Regions from separate parts of the Homo sapiens genome. Here all the other regions are linked to region 3. The links come from fine-mapping of genetic effects on gene expression. A gene starts in region 3. Each other region holds a variant in brackets. All regions are shown on one strand. Distances are between the middles of the regions.

The links. PIP is the estimated chance that this variant, and not a neighbour inherited with it, causes the effect. A credible set is the group of variants that fine-mapping cannot tell apart.
Region 1: its variant is the best candidate, but not a certain one, in a credible set for the expression of POLR2C in monocytes after LPS (Fairfax 2014, PIP 0.52).
Region 2: its variant is the best candidate, but not a certain one, in a credible set for the expression of POLR2C in monocytes after LPS (Fairfax 2014, PIP 0.73).
Region 4: its variant is the best candidate, but not a certain one, in a credible set for the expression of POLR2C in monocytes (Fairfax 2014, PIP 0.65).

Annotation. Positions count from the first base shown.
Region 1 is chr16:57,305,797-57,312,008 of GRCh38, reverse strand. No RefSeq gene overlaps it. Among named protein-coding and RNA genes, the nearest start is that of TRL-CAG2-2, 8.3 kb to the right of the region's middle. The variant A/G (reference allele first, on the strand shown) is at 2,662.
Region 2 is chr16:57,392,080-57,400,114 of GRCh38, reverse strand. It overlaps a transcript of CCL17 not described here. Among named protein-coding and RNA genes, the nearest start is that of CCL17, 8.7 kb to the left of the region's middle. The variant C/T (reference allele first, on the strand shown) is at 4,210.
Region 3 is chr16:57,460,205-57,465,204 of GRCh38, reverse strand. It overlaps POLR2C (RNA polymerase II subunit C), which reads right to left and starts at 2,526. Exons shown (of 9, transcript NM_032940.3): 1 at 2,395-2,526; 2 at 2,127-2,176. The coding sequence starts at 2,480. It overlaps COQ9 (coenzyme Q9), which reads right to left. Exons shown (of 9, transcript NM_020312.4): 9 at 3,935-4,616. The coding sequence ends at 4,581. RefSeq lists an enhancer at 2,374-2,668.
Region 4 is chr16:57,508,678-57,513,677 of GRCh38, reverse strand. CCDC102A (coiled-coil domain containing 102A) reads left to right here. Exons shown (of 9, transcript NM_033212.4): 9 at 808-1,497. The coding sequence ends at 937. Among named protein-coding and RNA genes, the nearest start is that of DOK4, 25 kb to the right of the region's middle. RefSeq lists enhancers at 3,448-3,948, 4,644-5,000. The variant ATAAG/G (reference allele first, on the strand shown) is at 3,100.

The DNA of each region.
Region 1 (6,212 bases), 150 kb after region 3:
ACTGAGGGCCCTAGTTGGGGTGCTATGAACATACGGGGGAAACACTCTGAATTGGGGATTTATTGGGGGATTTATTCATTTGTTCTTTCAATTAATAAATACTTCCTACAAGGAGGCCAGCCTCAGTGACTGAAATCCCAGCACTTTTGGAGGCCAAGGCAGGAGGATCACTTGAGTCCAGAAATTCGAGACCACCCTGGGCAACATAGTGAGACTCTGTCTCTACAAAAAATACAAAAGTTATCCAGGCTTGGTGGTGCATGCCTAAAGTCCCAGCAAGTCGGGAGGCTGAGGTGGGAGGATCATTTGAGCCTAGAAGGTTGAGGCTGCATTGAGTCATGATCGAGCCACTGCATTCCAACCTGGGTGACAGAGCAAGACCCTGTCTCAAAAACAAAAACAGTTCCTACAGGGAAGCAGGCACCAAGATCTGTGGGGATTGAAGAGTCCCAGCTCACATGAGTGTGGGGTCTGGTGGGGACACACGTAGCCTAAGACTCTCCTCTCTCTCTCTCTCTCTGACACACACACACACACACACACACACACACACACACACACACACACCATGCCAAGGGTTCTGGTGCAGACAGGGGAGCTGACCCAGGCTGGAGGTCAGGAAAGGCTCCCGTGGGAGGGAACCAGAGGAGAGCTGAGGGCGGGTGAAGGTGTTGAGCTCCTTCAGCAACTTGGAAACTTTCTCAGACAACCTGACCTAGAAAAATTTTGCATCAGACTCTCATTTTTATGAGGAACTTGATAAATGAAGAAACTTGCTCTGTATATCTGCTGAAACCTTTGGAGAACAAAGGAGGCATCAGTAATGCTCTTTTTTTAGAATGAAAAGTAATTTTCATGGCTCTTTTTCCTTTCACGTTGCAAAAGCAGTGCATTTTGGGAAACATGACTCCCCCAGCCCCCACCCTCCCCTGCCCTGCCCACCGTGTCTCTGGCTGGGGAACAGGGCACGCGACTTGCACCACCCTGTCATGACCTCCTGGGACTCCAAGAGTCCACCTGTTGCCTGTCCAGGCACCTCCCCTGGGCAGACCCACCTGTGCCCCTGCTGGCACATCCTCTGCTGAGGTCCCCAGGACAAAGGACATAGGTTGGTCTTCTAGGATCTGAGTCCCAGCAACCATAGAGAAAGACTGCAACAAACAGGCCTGGAGAAAATAGCATTAGGCATATCAAAATCCAGAGGGAAATGGGGAGTTATTTGAAGATAAAGAATTTCCAGAGGAAATGTCAAAACTCTGAGTGGCTTCACGCAGGTGGAAAAGGGCTTCAGCTGTGGGTTCCTTCCCCTCCCCAGGGTTGTGGTCCCCATTTCCCTCCTTGGAAGCCCCACTTGGATGGGTTTGCGTCCCGGATATGGCCTGCAACACTGGGTCCAAGCAGTTTAGGGGCTAGCTCTGACTCTGGAAGGCTGGAGAAATGGCTGCACCAGCTCTGGGCTCTCACGATGCACACAGGGCCAGGAGCAGTGGCTCATGCTTGTAATCTCAACACTTTGGGAAGCCAAGGCAGGAGGATTGCTTGAGGCCAGGAGTTTAAGACCAGCCTGGGCAACGTAGACCTTGTCTCTACAAAAAAAAAAAAAAAATTTTGTTGTTGTTGTTTCAATTAGCGGGACATGGTGGCCAAACACCTGTAGCCCCAGCTTACTCAGGAAGCTGAGGCAGCAGGATCTTTTGAGCCCAGGAGTTTGAGGCTGCAGCAAGCCAAGATTGCACCATTGCACTCCAGCCTGGGTGACAGAGCAAGGCCTTTCTCTAAAATATAAATAAGGCCAGGCCTGGTGGCTCATGCCTGTCTTGCCAGCACTTTGGGAGGCTGAGGCGGGTGGATCACTTGAGGCCAGGAGTTCGAGACGAGCCTGGCCAACATGGTGAAACGCCATCTCTACTAAAAATACAAAAATTAGCCGGGCGTGGTAGTGTGCGCTTGTAATCCCAGCTACTTCGGAAGCAGAGACAGGAGAATCTCTTGAACCCAGGAAGCAGAGACTGCAGCGAGCTGAGATCATGCCACTGCACTCCAGTCTGGGCAACAGAGCGAGGCTCCATCTTAAAAATAAATAAATAAAATAAAAATAAATAATGATTTTAAAATGATGCCCATAGAAAATGTGTAGTGATTGAAAGGAAAATGGAATATTTGTCCCTCTTTATTGCACTTTCCCCAGGATCCCTGGCTTTCCTGGAGAAATTGATGCCCTATCTCAACTGGACTCCATACCATCCTTGGTTCTCCTGAGACCCATCTTCTCTCAGTCCCACCCCTAGGCCTTTGCTCATGATGGGCTCCATGGAATGCCTTCCCCCTCCTCTCAGCCCATATAGGTCAGACCGGTCCTTCTCTGCCCACCTTCTCCAGCACACCTCCTCCTCTTTGGCATCCCTGGAGTTCTTTCTCTTCCACTAAGTCTGCATCATTTAATCAGGCAGGATCTGATCTCTTGTTTCCTGATGTTTTGCAGAGGAGCCATCTAAGCTAGCACTGCCCAATAGAAATATGACACAAGCCACACAGGAAATTCAATTTCTTTTTCTTATTCTTTTTCCGTTTTTTTTTTTTTTTTTTTAAACAGAGTCTCGCTGTGTCGCCAAGACTACAGTGCAATGGCACAATCTCAGCTCACTGCAACCTCCGCCTCCC[A/G]GGTTCAAGCGATTCTCCTGTCTCAGCCTCCTGAGTAACTGGGAATAAAGGCGTGTGCCACCACACCCATCTACTTTTTTTGTATTTTTGGTAGAGATGGGGTTTCACCATGTTGGCCAGGCTAGTCTTGAACTCCTGACCTCAAGTGATCCATCTGCCTCAGCCTCCCAAAGTGCTGGGGTTACAGGCATGAGCCACCGCACCCAGCCAGAAATTAAATTTTTCTAGTAGCAGCATTGAAAAAAGTAAATAGAAACAGTGGAAATTAATTTTAATAATATATTTTTATTTGACCCAACATGGCCAAAGTATAATTACATTGAAAATTAATAATAAAACAGTTTACATTTTTTTCATACTGTCTTTGAAACCTACTTTGTATTTTACACTCATGATCCCTCTGAATTCAGACTGGCCACATTTCTTTTTTTATTTTATTTTATATTATATTATTTACTTTTTTTTTTTTTTGAGATGGAGTCTCACTCTATTGTCCAGGCTGGAGTCCAGTGGCATGATCTAAGCTTACTGCAACTTCTGCCTCCCGGATTCAAGCAATTCTCCTGCCTCACCCTCCTGAGTAGCTGGGATTACAGGTGTACACCACCATGCCCAGCTAATTTTTGTATTTTTAGTGGAGATGGGGTTTTGCCATGTTGGCCAAGATGGTCTCGAACTCCTGACCTCAAGTGATCTGCCTGCCTCGGCCTCCCAAAGTGCTAGGATTACAGGCGTGAGCCACTACACCTGGCCTGGACTGGCCACATTTCAAATGCTCAAGAGCCAGTGAGTGACTACTGTGTGGGAGGGTACAGGTCCAGGCTGTATTTTTCTTTGGGTTACATGTGACAGAGGTTCACATTAAACTGGCATAAGTGAAAAAGGGCATTGGCTCATGAAACTGACAAGACCAAAAGGGATAAATTGAGGGACAGCTAGCTCCAGGCTTTCCAATGTCGTCAATGTCGTCAGAGAGCTGACATTGTATATTTTCCAGCTTTCCTTCTCAAGTAGGTTCTGGATGGCATAGCAAAGACAGCCACCACCAGCTCAGCCACCTGACCCCGCACCCAGCTTCTCTATTCCAAGTGTTCCCCCAGGCCAGACTCCCACTGGACCAACTGGAATTCTGCACTCATTTCTGAACCAATCAGTGTTGTGGCAAGATGGGTGGAATGGCTGACTAGCAGATGTGAGTCGTCTGACCATTCCCAGCATGAGAGGAGAGGAGAGTCAGCCTCACCTTTCCTGATGGGACTGACAGTGGCCACGGAGGGGTTTCCCAAAGGAGAATCAGGAGGTTTGGTACCCAAAGACTAAGGGGGCCACACAGGATGGGGAGGGAGAGGGATGTGAGGTGAGAGTGAAAAGTGACCAGAATGCAGGTTGGATTGAATAAAAAGAGGCTCCCAAGAGTACTGGAGTATGAGATTGAACAGGAAAGACATGATCTTAGTCTGGCGGAAATGTTCAAAAGATGTGATGGCTAGTAGGGCACATGCCAGTGAGAGCAGATAATAGCCTTAGTGCTGGGTGCCCAGGAGTTTTGGGGGTTGTGGGGAATCCCGGAGAGGGGAAGGGCCAGGATGGTCGTGGGGACTATGGGAGGCTCATTGCAGCCCCATTTACCAAGGAGCACAGCAGTATTTCCACCTGTTGCTACTGATATGGCCATAGGAAGCACATCAGGAGACCATCCAGAGGCCTCGACCTCAGACACTGCATCCCATACCCCACACTAAGGATGCAGCCCACCCCGAGAGAAAACTCTGCCCTGGTGCAGCTCTGAGCAGAACACAGGAACCTTTTAGCCCAGAAAGACAGAGCAGATGGACCTTCCCGAGGGTCTGGAGGTCCCCAAGCCCAGGCAGGCAAAAGGGTTGTTATCCCAATGGGGAGGGCTAGGCACGGGACTCAGAGATGAAGACTCCTGGGGAAGGCAAGGGTCATGAATGGCCTTCCCAGGGGGGAACCCAGGCTTCCTGAGCTCCACTAGAGAGGCACAAAAAGCTGACTTGAAGAGCCCAGAGAATTGACTCAGTCGTCTGTCCGTCCGTCCATCCATCCATCCATGCATCCCTTTGTCCGTTCACCCACTCATGTACTATTTATTTACCAAGCTCCTGCTATGTGACAGGAATGCCCTACCTGCCAGGAATACCCTGGTGAACTAGATGGCCAAGGTCCCTGCCTTCGCAGAGCCCAGAGCCTAGTCAGGGAGAAACACGATCAACAGATAAGCCAGCCAATGAACACGGTGACTTCGGATCTCAAATAGGGTGGCCAGATAGCAAATGAGTGGGAGGAGAGGTGGGGGCTGCTTTAGCCACGCGCTGAGGAAGAGTCATTTGAAGAAGATGGCTCTAGACAGAGGAAACGGCCAGTTTCATAGACCCTGCAGAGGGAGTACGTTTTGTATTGGAAAACCAGATAAATGGAGGTGGGAGATGAAGGTGGGGGAAGAGGTCGGAAAGCTGGTCACGGCTGACTCAGGTGAGGCAGTCAGGATGCACTGTGGTTGTGGGGAGGGCAGGCTAGAGATTCTCTCCACAAAGTCAGATTGGCAGGTCAAACTGGCCCCATAGTATTCACCAGGCACAAGAACTGTCATATTAGGCTGGGCACAGTGGCTCATGCCTATAATCTCAGCATTTTGGGAGGCTGAGGTGGGAGGTGTGCTTGAGGCCAGGAGTTCAAGACCACCCTAGGCAATATATTGAGACCCCATCTCTACAGAAATGTTTTTTTGCAAAAATTAGCCAGGCGTGGTGGCTTGTGCCTGTAGTGCTAGCTACTCGGGAGGCTGAGGTGGAAGGATCACTTGAGCCCAGGCAGTCGAGGCTGGAGTTAGTTGTGATTGCACCACTACACTCCAGCCTGGGTGACAGAGTAAGATCTTGTCTCAAAAAAAATAAAATAAAATAAAAAAGTCACATTGTTTTATTTTGCTGGGCTAACACATAAAGCATTTACTCTGCTCCAGGCACTCTAAGTGCTCAGCATGTATTAACTTATTTGATCTTCTCAAAAATCCTCTAAGATAGATATTAGTACTAAGCCCATTTTACAGATGGCGAAACTGGGGAACTGAGAGGCTAAGTAACTCCCCCAAGGTCACAGAGCTAGCAAATGGCAGAAGCAGGATTTGAACTCAGGTGGTCCCAGAGTCCATGCACTCAGCCACGAGGGCTCAAATTAAAATTGGCCAGCCAGGCATGGTGGCTCACACCTGTAATCCCAGCACTTTGGGAGGCCGAGGCAGGTGGATCGCCTGAGGTCAGGAGTTCAAGACCAGCCTGGCCAACATGGTGAAACCCCATCTCTACTAAAAATACAAAAAAAAAAAAAATTAGCTGGGGGTAGTGGTGGGCGCCTGTAATCCCATCTACTCAGGAGGCTGAGGCAGGAGAATCACTTGAACTGGGAAATGGAGGTTGCAGTGAGCCGAGATCACACCATTGCACTTCAGCCTGGGCAACAAGAGCGAAACTCCATTTCAAAAAAAATTGGCCCTCTACTCCCTGCCTATCAGGGTGGTAAGCTGTCGTCTC
Region 2 (8,035 bases), 67 kb after region 3:
GTGCTGGGATTACAGGCGTGAGCCACCGCGTCCTGCCAGTTCCTGTTTTCTTATACATTGTTACATTTCTTCTCTGCTGTATAAACTCCTGGTTTTAGTCAATCAGGGAGATGGATTTCAGACTGAGCTCCCATCTGCTTGGTTGCAGCACTCGATTAAAGTCTTCCTTGGCAATACTTGGTGTCTCAGTGATTGGCTTTCTGTGTGGGGAGCAGCAGGACCTAGACTGCACCCATGGTGTTTTGGTAACACTATGAGCACGAGCTCATCTTTGAGCTGTGACAGGGATGACAATGAGAAAATGCATCCAAAGGCTCACAGGGATATCATGTGGACAGTGAACCTCATGAGAAGAAGGTCCATGTCAGGCCAGGAGCAGTGGCTTACGCCTGTAATACCAACACTTGGGAGGCCAAGGGGGCAGATCACCTGAGGTCAGGTGTTCAAGACCAGCCTGGCCAACATGGTGAAACCCCATCTCTACTAAAAATAAAAAATTAGCTGGGCAAGGTGGCACACACCTGTAGTCCCAGCTACTTTGGAGGCTGAAGCAGAAGAATCGCTTGAACCTAGGAGGCAGAGGTTGCAGTGAGCCAAGATCCCACCTTTGCACTCCAGCCTGGGCGACAGAGCAAGATTCCTTCTCCAAAAATAAAAAAAATAAATAAGTAAAAAAAAGAAGGTCAATGTCTTATTGATCAGCATCTCTGGCAATAAACTAATGACTCCTTTCCTCCACCTCTCCCCAGGCCACCACTGCTGTTGCCCTGGTGGTTACCTACCCCTGACACTCTAGAAAGAGGGCCCCAGCCATGTGGATGGGATTTCTCCTTCATTGATCTGATGGTGGTCGTGGCAATGTATAAGCACCTGGAAACAGGTCAGACAGGTCCAGGTGAGAACCAGGGGTGGGGAGAAGGGGAGGCCCAGGAAAACATCCAGGTGGCAGAAGCTCTGGCACTCAGAGAGTCCTGATGCAAGATCTTAGACTCATCAATGAGGCAGTAATTCCTCTATATCCAGCTGTACCCAACCCCTACACCCTACTCTCAAATACCAGAGGAAGCAGAATTGTTCACTGTTCTGGACCTCAAGGATGGCTTCTTCTGCATTCCCCTGCACTCTGACTCCCAGTTTCTCTTTGCCTTTGAGGATCCCACAGACCACACATCCCAACTTACATGGACGGTCTTGCCTCAAGGTTTAGGGATAGCTCTCATCTGTTTGGTCAGGCACTGGCCCAAGATCTCGGCCACTTCTCAAGTTCAGGGACTCTGGTCCTTCAGTATGTGGATGATTTACTTTTGGCTACCAGTTTGGAAGCCTCATGCCAGCAGGCTACTCTAGATATCTTGAACTTTCTAGCTAATCAAGGGTACAAGGCATCTAAATTGAAGGCCCAGCTCTGCCTACAACAAGTCAAATATCTAGGCCTAATCTTAGCCAGAGGAACCAGGGCCCTCAGCAAAGAATGAATACAGCCTATACTGGCTTATCCTCACCCTAAGACATTAAAACAGTTGCAGGGGTTCCTTGGGATCACTGGCTTTTGCCAACTATGGATCCCCAGATACAGCGAGATGGCCAAGCCTCTCTATACTCTAATCAAGGAGACCCAGAGGGCCATCTAGTAGAATGGGAACCAGAGGCAGAAACAGCCTTCAAAACCTTAAAGCAGGCCCTAGTACAAGCTCCAGCCTTAAGCCTTCCCAGAGGACAAAACTTCTCTTTACACATCACAGAGAGAGTGGGAATAGCTCTTGGAGTCCTTACTCAGACTCGAGGAATAACCCCACAACCAGTGGCATACCTAAGTAAGGAAATTGATGTAGTAGCTAAAGGCTGGCCTCACTGTTTATGGGTAGTTGCGGTGGTGGCCATGTTAGTATCAGAGGCTATCAAAATAATACAAGGAAAGGATTTCACCATCTGGACTACTCATGATGTAAATGGCATACTAGGTGCCAAAAGAAATTTATGGCTATCAGACAACCATCTGCTTAGATACCAGGTGCTACTCCTTGAGGGACCGGTGCTTCAAATATGCACCTGTGCGGCCCTCAGCCCTGCTACTTTTCTCCCAGAGGATGGGGAACCAATTGAGCATGACTGCCAACAAATTGCAGCCCAGACTTATGCCACCCAAGAGGATCTCTTGGAAGTCCCCTTAGCTAATCCTGACCTTAACCTATATGCTGATGGAAGTTCATTTGCGGAGAATGGGATACAAAGGGCAGGTTATGCCATAGTTACTGATGTAACAGTACTTGAAAGTAAGCCTTTTCCCCTAGGGACCAGCGCCCAGTTACCAGAACTAGTGGCACTTACCCAAGCCTTAGAACTGGGAAAGGAAAAAAAGAATAAATGTGTACACAGATAGCAAGTGTGCTTATCTAATCCTACATGCCCATGCTGCAATATGGAAAGAAAGGGAGTTCCTAACCTCTGGGGGAGCTCCCATTAAATACCACAAGAAAATCATGGAGTTATCGCATGCAGTGCAAGACCCCAAGGAAGTGGCAGTCTTACACTGCTGAAGCCATCAAAAAGGTGAAGGAGAAAAGGCAGAAGGAAACCGTCAGGCAGACGCTGAGGTCAAAATTGCTGCCAGGTGGAAACTCCCATTAGAAATACCTAGAGAAGGACCCTTGGTATGGAACAACCCTCTCCAAGAGATTAAGCCCCAGTATTCCCTGACTGAAACAGAATGGGGACTTTCATGGGGGCATAGTTTTCTCCCCTCGGGATGGTTAACGACAGAAGAGGGCAGCCAGTGGAAAATACTTAAGACCCTCCACCAAAGTTTTCATATGGGTATTGAGAACACTCATCAAATGGCCAAATCCCTATTTACAGGGCCAAATCTCCTCCGGACCATCCGACAAGTAGTCAAAGCCTGTGATGTGTGCCAAAGGCATAATCCCTTGGCCCATCGTAAGGCCCCTCTGGGACAACAAAGAATAGGGCACCATCCCAGAGAGGACTGGCAGTTAGACGTCTCTCATATGCCTAAGTCAAGGGGATTTCAATACTTGTTAGTCTGTGTTGAAACCTTTACAAATTGGATAGAAGCCTTCCCTTGCAAGACAGAGAAGGATCAGGAAGTGGTTAAAGTCCTAATTCATGAAATAATTCCTAGATTTGGGCTTCCCCAAAGCTTCGCAATCCAGCTTTTACACTCTTACATTTCCAACCTAACCTATTACACAAGCAATGAAAAAACCATACATGGCCCTGCAACCACGAATACTGTCTTAACTTTCCAAGCCCCTTTATGCATCCAATGCAACCTGTTATCAGGACTGCCCCTGGGGCACCTACTATCCCATCAGTGTAATTACACCCTACAACTTCAAGCCCCAACTGATCACAGTAACTTCCGACTCACCCAAACAGCTCCATTCAGATGGCTTGTCCGCTTCTCAGAGCCTCCAAAAATCATCACCTCCTTCCTGCTTAACAAACAGTCTAGGTTTAATAATGGCAAACATACTCCCTGCATGACCATTCACCCCTGGACCCCCTGCAGCAGCGCCCCCACCACTAGTGAATGCCTTCTCATCCCCTATTTCAATCACTCTCTTGAATGGTTCCTAGTAGATACAAAACGATTTTTTCTCCAATGGTAAAATAGAACACAGGGAGCCACTCAGTTTGCTCCCAACACTCCTTTCCAGCCGCTCACTGGAGCTACCTTGGCAAGTACTCTAGGAGTATGGGAAAATGAAAACAACAAACTCACACACCTTTTTAACATACACAACCAGTTCTGTGTACCCAGCCAAGGCATATTCTTCTTATGTGGAACTTCAACCTATATCTGCCTCCCCACCAACTGGACAGGCACCTGCACCTTAGTCTTCCTAAGTCCCAACATTGACATTGCCCCAGGAAATCAGACCCTATCAGTGCACCTCAAAGCTCAAGTCTGTCAGTGCAGAGCAATACAACTAATACCCCTACTTATAGGGTTAGGAATGGCCACTGTTACAGGAACCAGAATAGCCAGTGTATCTACTTCATTATCCTACTACCACACACTCTCTAAGATAGTTTGCAAGAAATAACAAAATCTATCCTTACTCTACAGTCCCAAATAGACTCTTTGGCAGCAGTGACTCTCCAAAACCACTGAGGCCTAGACCTCCTCACTGCTGAGAAAGGAGGACTCTGTACCTTCTTAGGGGAAGAGTGTTGTTTTTACAGTAA[C/T]CTGTCAGGGATAGTATGAGACACCACCCGGTGTTTACAGGAAAAGGCTTCTGAAATCAGACAATGCCTTTCAAACTCTTATACCCACTTCTGGAGTTGGGCGACATGCTTCTCCCTTTTCTAGGTCCCGTGACAGCCATCTTGCTATTATTTGCCTTCGGGCCCTGTATTTTTGACCTCCTTGTCAAATTTGTTTCCTCCAGGATTGAGGCCATCAAGCTATAGATGGTTTTAAAAATGGAACCCCAAATGAGCTCAACTAACAACTTCTACCGAGGACCCCTGGATCGACCCACTGGCCCTTTGGCCCAGAGAGTTCCCCTCTGGAGGACACTACCACTGCAGGGCCCCTTCTTTGTCCCTATCCAGCAGGAAGTAGCTAGAGCAGTCATTACCCAATTCTCAACAGCAGTTGGGGTGTCCTGTTTAGAGCGGGGATTGAGAGGTAAAGCCAGCTGGACTTCCTGGGTCGAGTGGGGACTTGGAGAACTTTTCTGTCCAGCAAGAGGAATGTAAAACGCACCAATCAGCACTCTGTAGCTAGGATTGCAAAATGCACCAATCAGCGCTCTGCAGCTAGCAAGGGGATTGTAAAATGCACCAATCAGCACTCTGTAAAAATGCACTAATCAGCACTCTGTAGCTAGCAAGTGGATTATAAAATGCCACAATCAGCGCTCTGTAACAACGTACCAATCAGTGCTCTGTAGCTAGCAAGAGGATTGTAAAATGCACCAATCAGCACTCTGTAAAATGCACCAATCAGCAATCTGTAAAACACACCAATTGGCAGGATTCTAAAAGTAGCCAATCGTGGGGAGGATTGAAAAAAAGAGCACTCTGATAGGACAGAAATGGAACATGGGTGGGGCCAATAAGAGACTAAATGCTGCCCACCCCCAGCCAGCGGCGGCAACCTGCTTGGGTCCCCTTCCATGCTATGGAAGCTTTGTCCTTTTGCTCTTCACAGTAAACCTTGCTACCACTCACTCTTTGGGTCCGTGCCATCTTTAAGAGCTGTAGCACTCACTGCGAAGGTCAGCGGCTTCATTATTGAAGTCAGCGAGACCATGAACCCACTGGCAGGAACCAACTGGAGACACACTGAGACTCCAGAGCTTCTAGATTCTCCCTTGCCTCCTCACTCCTCTGGAGAGATTGGGCGACAAGCAGGGTGTGACCCAGTCCAGGCTTCCTGGGGATTCTGGCCTGCCTGGGGACAATGTCTTGACCGGGATGTGCTGGTGATTGCATAACCACAGGACCAGCTCAAACTAGTTTACCATTGCTTGAGTTGTTACAGATGGCACGGAGCCAAAACTGCATGTCATGTAGCCTGGCCCGGTGCAATCAGAGAAAACTTCCACCTCCTGAGAGTTAGCACCACCAACGTGGCAACCGGCCACATTGGCATCCCTGGGACTAGTTAACAGTGCCATAACAACTTGACCCACCCAGGGATCAGGGAGGCAGATTTGAGTGTTGTCTCCTGTCTCCTTGCCAGGTGACTTGGAATAAAGCTTTTTCTTTTCGCAAAAGTGGTGCTATAATATTGGCTTCTACTCACATCGGGCAGCAAGTCCATTACTTTGTAACAATTGGAGGATTCGAGGAGCTCAGGAGTGACTCGAACACATCACAGATGATCACTTTCAGTCTCTGACAGTCGTTTGAGGGAGTTAAATACTTTCCACCAGGAAATTCCTTGAAATTCAGCGCCCCACAAGGACAAGGTGGGCTTTTCCATCAGTTGGAAAGGGGCACGGCACAAGGAGTGTCAAAAGACACAGATGGGTGGGCTCTGGCCTTTCCCCTCTTCACCCTTTCCAGGATCTGCAGTGGTCACTGGGACACAAAGGGAAACAGGGCACATCCATGCCTTCCCTCACAGATCTTTCAGAAACACAGTGGGGCAGGCAGGTACAGCCAGGTCACGTGAGGGTTATGAGGGAAGACCCCAGGGGCCATGAGTCCGCTTAACAGGAAACCTTCCTTAAACTTAGAAGTCAGGGAAGGCCTCCTGGAAGAGGTGACATCTAAGCTGAGACAAAGGATGAATAGAAGTTGGCCAGGGGACTAGTTAAGGGGTAAGTTCTCTCAGATAGAGAGAAGACTGACTTGAAATATAAAGAAAATCAGCTGGGTGTGGTGGCTGATACCTGCAATCCCAGCACTTTGGGAGGCCGAGGTGGGTAGATCACCTGAGGTCAGGAATTTGAGACCAGCCTGACCAATATGGTGAAACCCTGTCTCTACTATATACAAATAATTATCCAGGCGTGGTGGCACGCACCTGTAGTCCCAGCTACTTGGAAGGCTGAGGCAGGAGAATCGCTTGAACCCAGAAGGCAGAGGTTGCAGTGAGCCAAGATTGTGCCATTTCACTCCAGCCTGGGCAAGAAGAGCACAAACTCTGTTTCAAAAAAAAAGAAAAGAAAAAGAAAAAAGAAAAAAGAAAAAAAATACTTAAAAATCTATAAAATGCACCAATCAGCACCAATCACTTTGGGAGGCAGGTGGATCACCTGAGGTCAGGAGTTTGAGACGAGCCTGGCCAACCCCATCTCTACTAAAAATACAAAAAATACAAAAACAAAAACAATACACACAAAAAAATCAGCTGGGTATGGTGGTGTGTGCCTGTAAACCCAGCTACTCAGGAGGCTGAGACAGGAGAACTGCTTGAACCTAGGAGGCGGAGGTTGCAGTGAGCCAAGAGTGTGCCACTGGACTCCACCCTGGGTGACAGAGCGAGAATCCATCTCAAAAAAAAAAAAAAATCTGTGGACAAATGTGCTGGGAGAGGGTGAGAAGGATGGGAACTGGCAGTAGGAGGATGAGGGTAAAGCCAATTGACCCATGGAAACCCTCCAGGAAAGCTGAGACACAGAAACTGCCCTTGCTGGTCCCTAGAGCTGTGCCTACACACCTGATTCCTGTGCCCACAGGCCCAGGTTACCCTGGTTTGGCTTCTGGGCTTAGGAGGTGCTTGCAAAACTGGCCGACCCAGATCAACTGGCAATGAGGTGAGGCTGGATAATGTTACTATTCTTTTCCCTATTTACTTCCTTGTCTGCTGAAGCATATCTGTATTAGTCAAGGTTCTCTAGAGGGACAGAACTAAAAAGATAGATGTATATATAAAGGGAAATTTATTAAGGAGTATTGACTCACATGATCACAAGGTGACATTCCACAACAGGCCATCTGCAAGCCAAGGAGCAAGGAAGCCAGCCTGAGTCCCAAAGCTGAAGAACTTGGAGTCCGATGTTGGAGGGCAAGAAGCATCCAGCATGGGAGAAAGATGTAGGCTGGGAGGCAAAGCCAGTCTAGTCTTTCCATGTTCTTCTGCCTGCTTTTATTCTAGCCGTGCTGGCAGCTGATTAGATTGTGCCCACCCAGATTGAGGGTGGGTCTGCCTCTCCCAGTCCACTGAGTCAACTGTTGCTCTCCTTTGGCAACACCCTCACAGACATACCTAGGAACAATACTTTGCATCCAATCAAGTTGACATTCAACATTAACCATCACAACATCCGAGCCATTAAAACTCTCGAGCACCAACGTATTTCAGAGAAACTGTAAAGCCTTTCCTCTTTCCAACTCCACTCAGTGAGAATTCCAGATAAATCCACAGACACCATAGACAGTGGGCCGTGCTGAGGGTGACCTCCAAGCATCTGCAAAAAGGATGAATGAAGAGATGAAGAGGAGAGCCAGCTAACAGCATGTTTTCAAGCTTTTTTTTTTTTTTTTTGAGACAAGGAATTGCTCTGTTGCCCAGGCTGGAGTGCAGCAGCACAATCATGGCTCATTGTAGCCTCAA
Region 3 (5,000 bases):
ATGCTTCCCATTGCTTCCCCAGTCCAAGCCAACTGAGAGAACCCTGACCCAAGCTTTTCTGCCTCTTTAATCCCCCAGCCCTTCCCTCCAGCACACCCTTCCCCTCCTTGCTGTACAGGTTAAGATCCTCTGTGCCTCCTGAAAACTAAGCCTTGCCTGCTCTCTATGCTACAGATGTGACATTCCCTCCCTTTCAACTCCTCTCTCACAAAACTCTGTTCAGACTTCCCTCAAGACACTTGTCATAGTGTGCCTTGTGTCATATTTGTGTATGTTATGTCTATACCTCAAGCTTCAGAAATTCCTTCACGCAGGTCCTGGGATGTCTTTGTATTCCTAGCATGGGTGCTCAATATTATTTGTAGAACTGAATTTGTTGGGAAAGAGGCATTTAGACTCAGAATGGCAGGGCTGCATCATGAAGTACAACTCCCTCACCTGACTCCTGATGAAACTGAGGTCCAGAGGCATGAAGTGCTTAGGCAGGGGGAGGTCCAGCACTCCAAGCTGAATTTAAGAAGTGACTGGGGGGCGGGGGGGTGGGGTGGTGGTGGTAGTGGATAAACTACAATGTTCTCTTGCCTAATCATTTGGCCTGCTTATTTCCTTAAAAGTCTGAATATTTGATGCCACAGCTATGACTTATATTTATTTTGCCTAATCCAAACTCTCTGAGCTGACTCTCAGAAATGCTTGAAGTATTTCATACAAGTATAATCAATGCATTAAGCACCTGGAGCAGAGTGGCTGGAACCAGACCAGAAATTGATCTTCCCTCCTCTAAGAGCCAAGTGCACCACAGCTATGCTTCTCCTGAACTACTGATCAAAATCTACCTTGCTTTAGTGTTGTCTGTGGATTCATCTCTCCCCTACAACCTCACTGTGGACTCCATGAGGGCAAAAACCCTGTTCTCTACAGCTTTGCATTCCCAGAGCTTACCACCATGCCTGCCACTTTCATGCTCCATAAATGCTGTTGAAGGAATAGATTAATAAAAAAGCCATCTACCAGCACTGAGCACTCACTAAACACAAAGCACTTATATGGATTACCTCACTTAATCCTTAACATTACCCTGATAAGGATCATTAGTGGCCGAATGTTACAGATGAGGAAACTGCAGCACACAGAAGTTTAATAACTTGCCCAAGTTTCACAAAAGCAGTAAGTGATGCAGCCATAAGAACGAACGAAATCATGTCCTCTGCAGCAACATGGACGTGGCTGGAAGCCACTATCTTCTTTTTTATTTTCTTTTGTTTGAGAAGGAGTCTCACTCTATTGCCCAGGCCAGAGTGCAGTGGCATGATCTCGGCTCACTGCAACCTCCACCTTCTGGGTTCAATCAATTCTGCCTCAGCCTCCCCAGTAGCTGGGATTACAGGTGGGAGCCACCACACCTGGCTAATTTTTGCATTTTTAGTAGAGGCGGGCTTTCCCCATGTTGGCCAGGCTGGTCTCAAACTCCTGGCCTCAGGTGTTCCTCAGTCTTGGCCTCCCAAAGTGCTGGAATTACAGGCGCGAGCGCGGCCTGGAAGCCATTATCCTAAGAGAATTAACACAGGAACAGAAAACCAAACACCGCATGGGAGCTAAAACTGGGTACGCACGGACATAAAGATGACAATAAACACACTGGTGACTACTAGAGCTGGAAGGGAGGCAGTGGGGCTAGGGGTGAAAAACTACCTATTGCGTACTATGCTCACTACCTGGGTGAAAGGATCATTTATACCCCAAATCTCAGCATCACGCACTATACCCAGGCAACAAACCTGCACCAATGTACCCCTTGACTCCAAAATAAAAGTTGAAAACATTTTAAAAACTTTTGTAACAATAGTAGTGAAAACAGTATTTGAACCCAAGTCTGCACACTGCTAAACCCATGCTTCTCAGCAATGCATACCCAGGACAAGGGTGGACCTAAGTGGCCCGTGGGCGCCAGGGAGGCGGCCACTGAGCCAAGGGCACAGGGTATGGTCAAGTCTCCAGCAATGCACTTTTCTCAGCACTACCACCCTCAGCCCGAACCAAGGACTGGAAGGAGCCCCAAAGAGTGTGTGGGTGGAGAGCGGGGCAGGAACCCGTGGGCGCGGGAACGAGGAAGGGGAGTCGCTTACCTATTATGGGAACCTCAGCGATGAAGACCCTCCGAATCGAATTGGCCACCCTGAAAGATCAAAAGCCAAGGGGCGTGAAGGCGCTGCAGCCTCGACAGGCTGGGCCCGCGCCGCAGGCTCCCAAAGCTAAAGCCCTGGTGCAGGGGGGCAGCTCTGGAAGGACATCGCCCCCACCCCACCCCACTACACCCCCGCCCCCTGCCCCGGGGCCCCGGCTTGGGCCTCCCGGCGCCCCAGAGCCGCCAGCCTCTTCCCTCGGTAGCCTTACGCCAGGTCGGTGTTCTCGATGATGAACTTGACATTCTCGTCAGTGAGCTCCGTGATCCGCACGGTAGGCTGGTTGGCGTACGGCATCTCGCCCAGGGGCCACCAGCCTCCGCGTCTGCTCCGCGGTGACTGCGCGGCGCCACCGCCAACACCGGAAGTCAGTCAGCGAGGCCTCCGCGGCTTCCGCAAAGACGACTCACAGCGCCGCCTGCTGCTCGGAGGCCAGAACTGCCGAGCGTCTTCTGCGGCCTCCTGCTTTAAAATGTACCAGATTCAGCTATCTCGGAGGGTAGTTTGGCAAAACACGCATACGTCCTTCACTTAACAGTAACACTTCTAAGAATTCATACTGCAGAAACACTTGCAGTTGTAAACAAAGATACGAGTGCAGGGACGTTCGTGGTAGTACTGTTTGTACTGTCCATTGATAAGAGACCTGGTGGAGTATACACACATGGAATACTATGAAGCACTTAAAAAGAACTTGTACATCTATAGAAAAACAAAAGTATATTTTAATATGAATGTATATTTTAGCAAAGTATACCTGAATTATAAGTAAATACCCTTTCCCTTGCAGTCTCAAGTATGGACCATGCACTTCTGAAAACTTCAGGAAAAGATACAATGTTCTTTAACCTAATGCTTCCTCTACAGTCTGTGTAGCTGTGGTGGGTGAGTGGGAACTCTTTGTCTCTGCATCCCCAGTGCCTGGCAGTGGGCACCATGTGGGGTGCATGCTCAACAAAGAACTACTGAAGTCCCCTAAACAGACTGGAGAGAGGTTTAAATGGGCCTCAAAAAAAGTGGCTGCTGCTCCAACAGAGAAAAGCTCTAAAATAGAACGTGGCAGGAAATACATTTAAGAGTTGGGAGAAGAGTAACCAGATAAAGAGGAGTTTGCCTTTGCAAAGAGTGACACCTCTTCCTGAAACAGAGGGTGGGCACTGATGGAACCCTGCTCCATAACCTGTGTCATCTTGGTAAATTAAGAATTATGGTTGTCTGCTGAGTGTAAGATGGATGCTATGAAGGAAAAAGGAGAATGCAATGAAAACTGGAACAGCTACTGCGAAAACTTCACAGGATGTCAAGAGATACAAGGAATTGAGAGGTGCAAAAAAGATCCAGTGGAAGACCCACAAGAGATCTGAAATTCAATTAGTTGCTGACTTTCCCCCATTAATATTCAGCTGACAGGCAGAAGAGAGCAAAGCAGAAAACAGAGCTAACCAGACGTGCAAAGGGAACCCAGCCAGTGTAGAGGCTGAGAAAATTACTGGGGCTAAAGAATGTACCACTAAAATCGTCAGACAAGAGCAGCCAAGGGAGCTGATGGTCTGTGGGAAGGCTTCTGTTACCCGTATTTTACTGATGGGAAGACTTGAGCCCAGAGACGCAGAGGTACTATAATTACCACTATGTATTAGGCAGTGGCAGCGCCAGAACACAGGTCTCCTGGCTGCCATAACTTAACCTGTCTCCCTCTGGGGTCCTGGATACCTATCATGATTGATAAGGAAACTAACTACACAATGGGAAACTACTTCAAACATATTTATTATTTTTACAGACTCAAAATACACTAATAATCCTGCAATGCATGCTGGTGTCATGTGACACCAGGCCTGGAATCACACCTCTGTCCAGCAGGCACTTGTCTCAGGTGAGGCAGTTTTCTGAGGGGGCTCCCAGGAACAGCATCTCAGGACACCTGAGAGGGAGGGGGCTGCAAGGAACACCTCTGTGTGCACACGCCTGTGCTGTGCTGGAGATGAGCTGTCACCTTGAGGTGGCGTCAGACCTTGACTCTGGCTTGGGAGCCCCAAGGTTAAGGGAAGGTTAAGACATGATCAAGGTGCCCATGAGATTGTGACAGGGACATGCTGGGTTTCTGTGGCTTGACTGCTTGGATGAACATCTCATTTTTCAATCACACAGTTGCAGTGCAGAAAGGCATCAGGAGGCTTGGTCTGGTATTAGGAACTGAAGAAGCAGCCCAATCCCTGACCAGAACGGTAGCATCAAATGCCTTGTGGTTTCCAGGTGGCTGTGGTAGTGACTCAGGAGTCCTTTAGTGTGTTCTCGTGAACACCAGGTTATGTGGATGGCACCTTATACTTTTCAAAGCTCTTTCAATCTGTCCGCTCATTCTCTTCTAGGCATTGTAGCTTATACCCCTTCCTCTCACCGACGCTGGTTTAGACCTGTCAAGTTCTTGAGCTGACACGGGAATGGAAATAAAGAGAATAGTGAGGGCTTACCTTGCCTCTAGACTCTAATAGAAAAGACCTAGCTTTTCTTTTTCTCTTTTTTTTTTTCTTTTTTGCATAGAGACAGGGTTTTGCTATGTTGGCCAGACTGTCCTCAAACTCCTGGGCTCAAGCGATCTTCCCAAATCGCTGAGATGATATGCATGAGCCACTGCACCTGGCCAAGATCCAGGTTTGCAAGGTGGCAGGTGTGGCTATGATACAGAGACTTGATATACCAGGGTCCCAGGAGTCAGTGATATCTCCTGATGACAGGAAAAAATAAAGAAGTGAGGTTTTTGGAATCAAGACACTAGGGCTGAACCATTGTCAGCCTTATTATTAGATTATTGTT
Region 4 (5,000 bases), 48 kb before region 3:
CCCGCAGTCTGGGTCACATTGTTCAGGAGCCATAAACTCCAGAAGTGGGCAGGCAGGCCCTGCTGGGCCTCTCAAGTGCTTCCATCGGGGAGGGTGGGGCCACCCAGGACCGCTGTGTCGTTTTATTTTCCAACTTTTTGTGCTTTAATGTTCCGGGGACAGCTCACTAAATCACTGTGCAGTAATGGAGGCCCCCGCCTGTGCCCCTCCCTTACGTGTTAATAATTCATGTCTTCCAGTAAGATGCAGCCGGGGCGGCCACTTTGCTGGGGGGTTGGGGGAGGGATCGGCATTTCCTTCACCAGCTCTTCTTAGACTCAAAGTTTTCCTCGTAAATTTTGACTTTAGGAATTTTAATGTGAGGAAGAACTAGGGCTGAGCCCTTTCTCACTGACACTGGGAATGTAGAGGGCTCAGCCCACCCTGCACTGTCACACCAACCAACTCTGCTGCCTGTGCTCTGAGAGCCAGGCTTGGGTTCAAATCCTGCAGCATGACCTTGAGCCAGCTCCTTCACCTCTCTAACCGCCCAGCTGCTCTGGCACCACCCACTTCAGTTCAGAGCTCTGCCCCACTCCCCACCATCTGTGTGACTTTGAGCAAATGACTTCACCTTTCTGTGCCTCGGTTTCCTTGCTTGTAAAATGGGGGTGATAATGGCACTTCTATCATATAAGGAGATTACAGGAGATGAGACAGCAGGGAAAGCACCAGGGAAGGCTTAACTGCTCCAGCACCAGCTGCAGCCACCTTATCGGGGGACTACCAGCCAGGCTGCTCTAACCTCCTGTCACCCCCACCCCACAGGCTCCGCAGGCAGCAGCAGAACGCTCCCCTCTTCGGGAAGATCCGCAGTGCTCGCTTTGGCACCGAGGAGGCCGAGGATGGAACCAGTGACCTGGACGAGGACGAGGACCTGCAAATCCAGGTGGCCTAGAGCTTCCTGTGGCTGGGCAGGATGGGCCGCCCCATACCTGCCCAGGGTCCAGGCTAACCAGCCACTCAAACTGATGCAGTGCCTAGGCTCACTCTGGGACCAGTCCCTGCCACAGCCGACTTTCTTCTCTCCCAGGGATGGCGTCAACAGTCCCACCTACCAACGCCCTGTGGAAAGGAAGCCTATGTTTTATATATATATATACACACACGCGCGCGCGCGCGCGCACACCCAGAAGTCTTTGGACCCATTTGGTTTTATAAATACAGGACAGCTCCAAGGCCCAGTCCAGATGACCTCACCCACCCAGGACTTCATGCAGGGCTGGGCATGTTGGGGGCAGTTGTTGGAGCCCCACCCTGGGCTGCCTCTCTAGGCTTCGCTGTTCATCATACAATGCAGTGAACCCAGTTATTTGTAATAAATGAAGTTCAAGTTCTTGGGGCATCTGAAAGTATGGCAGATGTGGGCGGGGGTTGTGGGGGACGGCATCGGCCTGCACCTGACGCTGAACCAGAGCTCAGGAATGTCAAGTAACTTAATAAATGAGTGAATGTGAAGAAGAAAGAATGAATGAATGAGGCCAGCCACGGTGGCTCACACCTGTAATCCCAGCACTTTGGGAGTCCAACGCAGGTAGATTGCTTGAGCCCAGGAGTTCAAGACCAGCCTGGGCAACATGGCCAAATCCCGTCTTTACTAAAAACACAAAAATGAAAAAAAAAAAAAAAAAACACAAAAATGAGCCGGGTATGGTGTTGATTGCCTGTGATTTCAGCTACTCAGGAGGCTGAGGCAGGAGAATCGCTTGAAGCCAGGAGGTGGGAGTTGCAGTGAGCCGAGATCACACCATTGCACTCCAGCCTGGGCAACAGAGCAAGACTCGGTCTCAAAAAAAACCCCACAAAGAATGAATGAATAAACATCTGAGCTGCTGAGCAGTCTGGTATCCACTCCTGTGGCGAGGAGGAAGAAAGTACAGTGCATGCCTACTCTAGAGACTTCAGTTCTGGCACCCGATGGATTCATGTCTCTGCCCCTTATTAGCTGTGCAACCTCTGGGAAGTTACTTGCCCTCTCTGAGCCTCAGTTTCTTCATTTATAAGATGTCTCAGAGCTGTCACAAGAATTAGATAGGTTAACCCAGAGCTCGGTAAAGGTTAGTTATATTAAATACCTAAAAGTTTTCCCTGGAGAGGAGGGATTTGCCAGGTGGGCGCAGGGGATGAAGTTCAAGTATTGATGGAAGTTTACCTAGAGGTAGATGTGGACACAATAAATTACAAACCCTTTTTTTCCCCCCAGCCCTGCCCTACATAGCGAAATTACAGGCAGTTTTATTTTTGGTATTTAATTTCTATACCTTCTATAACCAGCAGATTTATGTTAAATCTGATGGTAACAGTGATTAGAAACATGGTAGCAGGCTGGGCATGGTGGCTCATGCCTGTAATCCTAGCACTTTGGGAGGCTGAGGCAGGCAGATCACCTGAGGTCGGGAGTTCAAGACCAGCCTGGCCAACATGGTGAAACCCTGTCCCAACTAAAAATACAAAAATTAGCCGGGCCTGGTGGCAGGCGCCTGTAATCCCAGCTACTCGGGAGGCTGAGGCAGAAGAATCGCTTGAACTCGGGAGGTGGAGTTTGCAGTGAGCCGAGATTGCACCACTGCACTCCAGCCTGGGCGACAGAGCAAGACTCTGTCTCCAAAAAAAAAAGAAACACGGTAGCATACACTTTTGATCTTTCACAGTCAAAGTGGCTTTCGGGGCATCTGCTCTTTTGATGGGACCCTTTAGGTAAATTCTCAGTACCCGGGCCTGCTTTCTGCAGAAGGAAGCGTTGCCAGGATTATTCTAGCATAAAGAAGGTGGTGAGCTCCCTGTGTTTAGGGCTGTGCAAGGAGAGGCTAGGGCTCCAGCCTGGCCCCAAAGAGCAGTTAAATTCGGTTGACAAAGGGGCTGCCTGCTAGGGGTGGGAGAGCTGCACTAAATGATTTTCTCTCGGTGTGGCCTAGTTAAGAGGGAGCCATGAGGCCACAATGCTCAGAGCTGTCCCAGGGACACCAGGGACACCTGGTGCTGGGTCTCAGGGTCACCAGGAGCTCTGGGGATTGTGAAGAGGAGAGAGGCAGACCCAGGAGCCCAGCTGGGCGCTAATAA[ATAAG/G]GGCACTGAAAAATTTTCTGTTGCCAACACTAAATTAATGATGTTAGCGAGGTGGGTTTGCTGCCATGGCAAAGCCCCTGGGCTCTGAGGGGGATGGGGAGGCTGAGTGAGACAACCACGGGGACTCCTGCTTTGTGGCCAGTGGAAAGTCAGCGCCAGTGGAAAACAGGGCTTTGAGAAGAAGGTCATTTCCTGCCAGGGATCTGTCTGCTTTCTCTCCCAAATAGGAAGTTGGTCCCAGAAAAGGCTGAAAGTGCTGCCCTTTGACCCTGAAGAGCTAGGAGGCAGGAGCCAGGCCCTCACTGACACTAGCTCTAAGAGCCACCTCCGGCTGGACCTGCCAGACCTGCCATTCCCAGACACAGAGCAGACCCTGTCTGGCGTGGCCAGGCTCCCCCAGACTCCCTGGCACCACCTGTGAGATAGCACTGAGCAGGGGCCTCATTACAGCCCCTATCTCCCAGGCAGACTGCTCCTAAGAATGTCAGCAAGGAGAGGGTCTGGCTTCCCACCTCCATGGTACACAAGAAAACAGGCCTCGGGAGGGGAGGGACGGTTGCAGATAGGGCTTGGAGATGGTCCCAGCCTGGAACGTGTGCTGCTTCTGCTCACAGCCCTTCTGTGGCTCCCCAGCTTACCTGCAGAGAAAGTCACCTAGTGTTCATGGTGGCCACTGCCCAAAGAAGCATTAGCTTTGCCTCATTTGATACTTTAAAAAGTATTTAATGCGTTGCTAACATTAGTAATGGGAGGTTTTCCCACAAAGCCATGGGGTTCCCTCTCTTGAGAAGTTAGCATCTCTGACCAGCGTGGACTCACTCCCACATGGCTACAGCTGCTGGGCTGAGAGGAGGCTCCTCCCTGGGGTGGGACACAGGCACCCTGGGCACCGCAGTCCCCACCACTCCCTGCAGCCTTCCCCTGCACTGCCCTCACTCATTTAAATTACTGCCCCACTCTTGGAGGCATTTGAAGATTTTTCCTCGGGCTTAGTCCAGTTTCTCTTTGAGCAAGTAAGGAAACAGAGAGAGGGGAGGTGCTGAGCCCGCCAGCATGAGATGTAGCCAGGCCAAGAGCACATGTCACTCGCGGGCTCTGATCCCCTGCAGGCTCCTGGTCACTCCAGGGGTGACTGCCAAGAACAGCTAGAATGTGTTGAGCGCCCCTCCCACCCCACTGTGCCTCACAGGCATCGTCTCACTGATCATTCCCAACAGCCACACGCGGTAGGTGTCACCATCATCATCCTATTTTATGCTGAGGATCCAGGGGCTCAGAGAGATGGAGTGATTGTTCCAAGGCCACACAGCTGACTAGACATGAAACTGGGATCCCGGCCAGAGCCCACACTCCTTTATTGTTTTTATTTATTATTATTATTTTTGAGACAATGTGTGTCTGTGTCACCCAGGCTGGAGTGCAGGGGCACAATCCCGGCTCACTGCAGCCTCTGTCTCCCAGGTTCAAGAGATTCTCCTGCCTCAGCCTTCCCTGTAGCTGGGATTACAAGCATGTGCCACCACGCCCAGCTGTTTTTTGTTGTTGTTGTTGTTGTTTGTTTGTTTTTAGTAGAAACGGGGTTTCACCATGTTGGCCAGGCTGGTCTCAAACTCCTGACCTCAAGTGATCCACCTGCCTTGGCCTCTCAAAGTGCTGGGATTACAGACATGAGCCACCGCACCTGGCCCACGCTCCTGATCATGGGTCGCCACCCCACCCTCCAAAGCAAGGCCCCATGTGGCCCCTGCCCTCTGCCTCACCACCACACTCTACTCTGCAGACGCTGCAGCTCCAGCCATGCCGACCTCCTTACTGCCCCGAGTACTGCCCTGCACTCATCAAAGTCCCACCAGCCCTTCAGAACTCGGTCTACTGGGCTCATTCTTAGCGTGTTAGA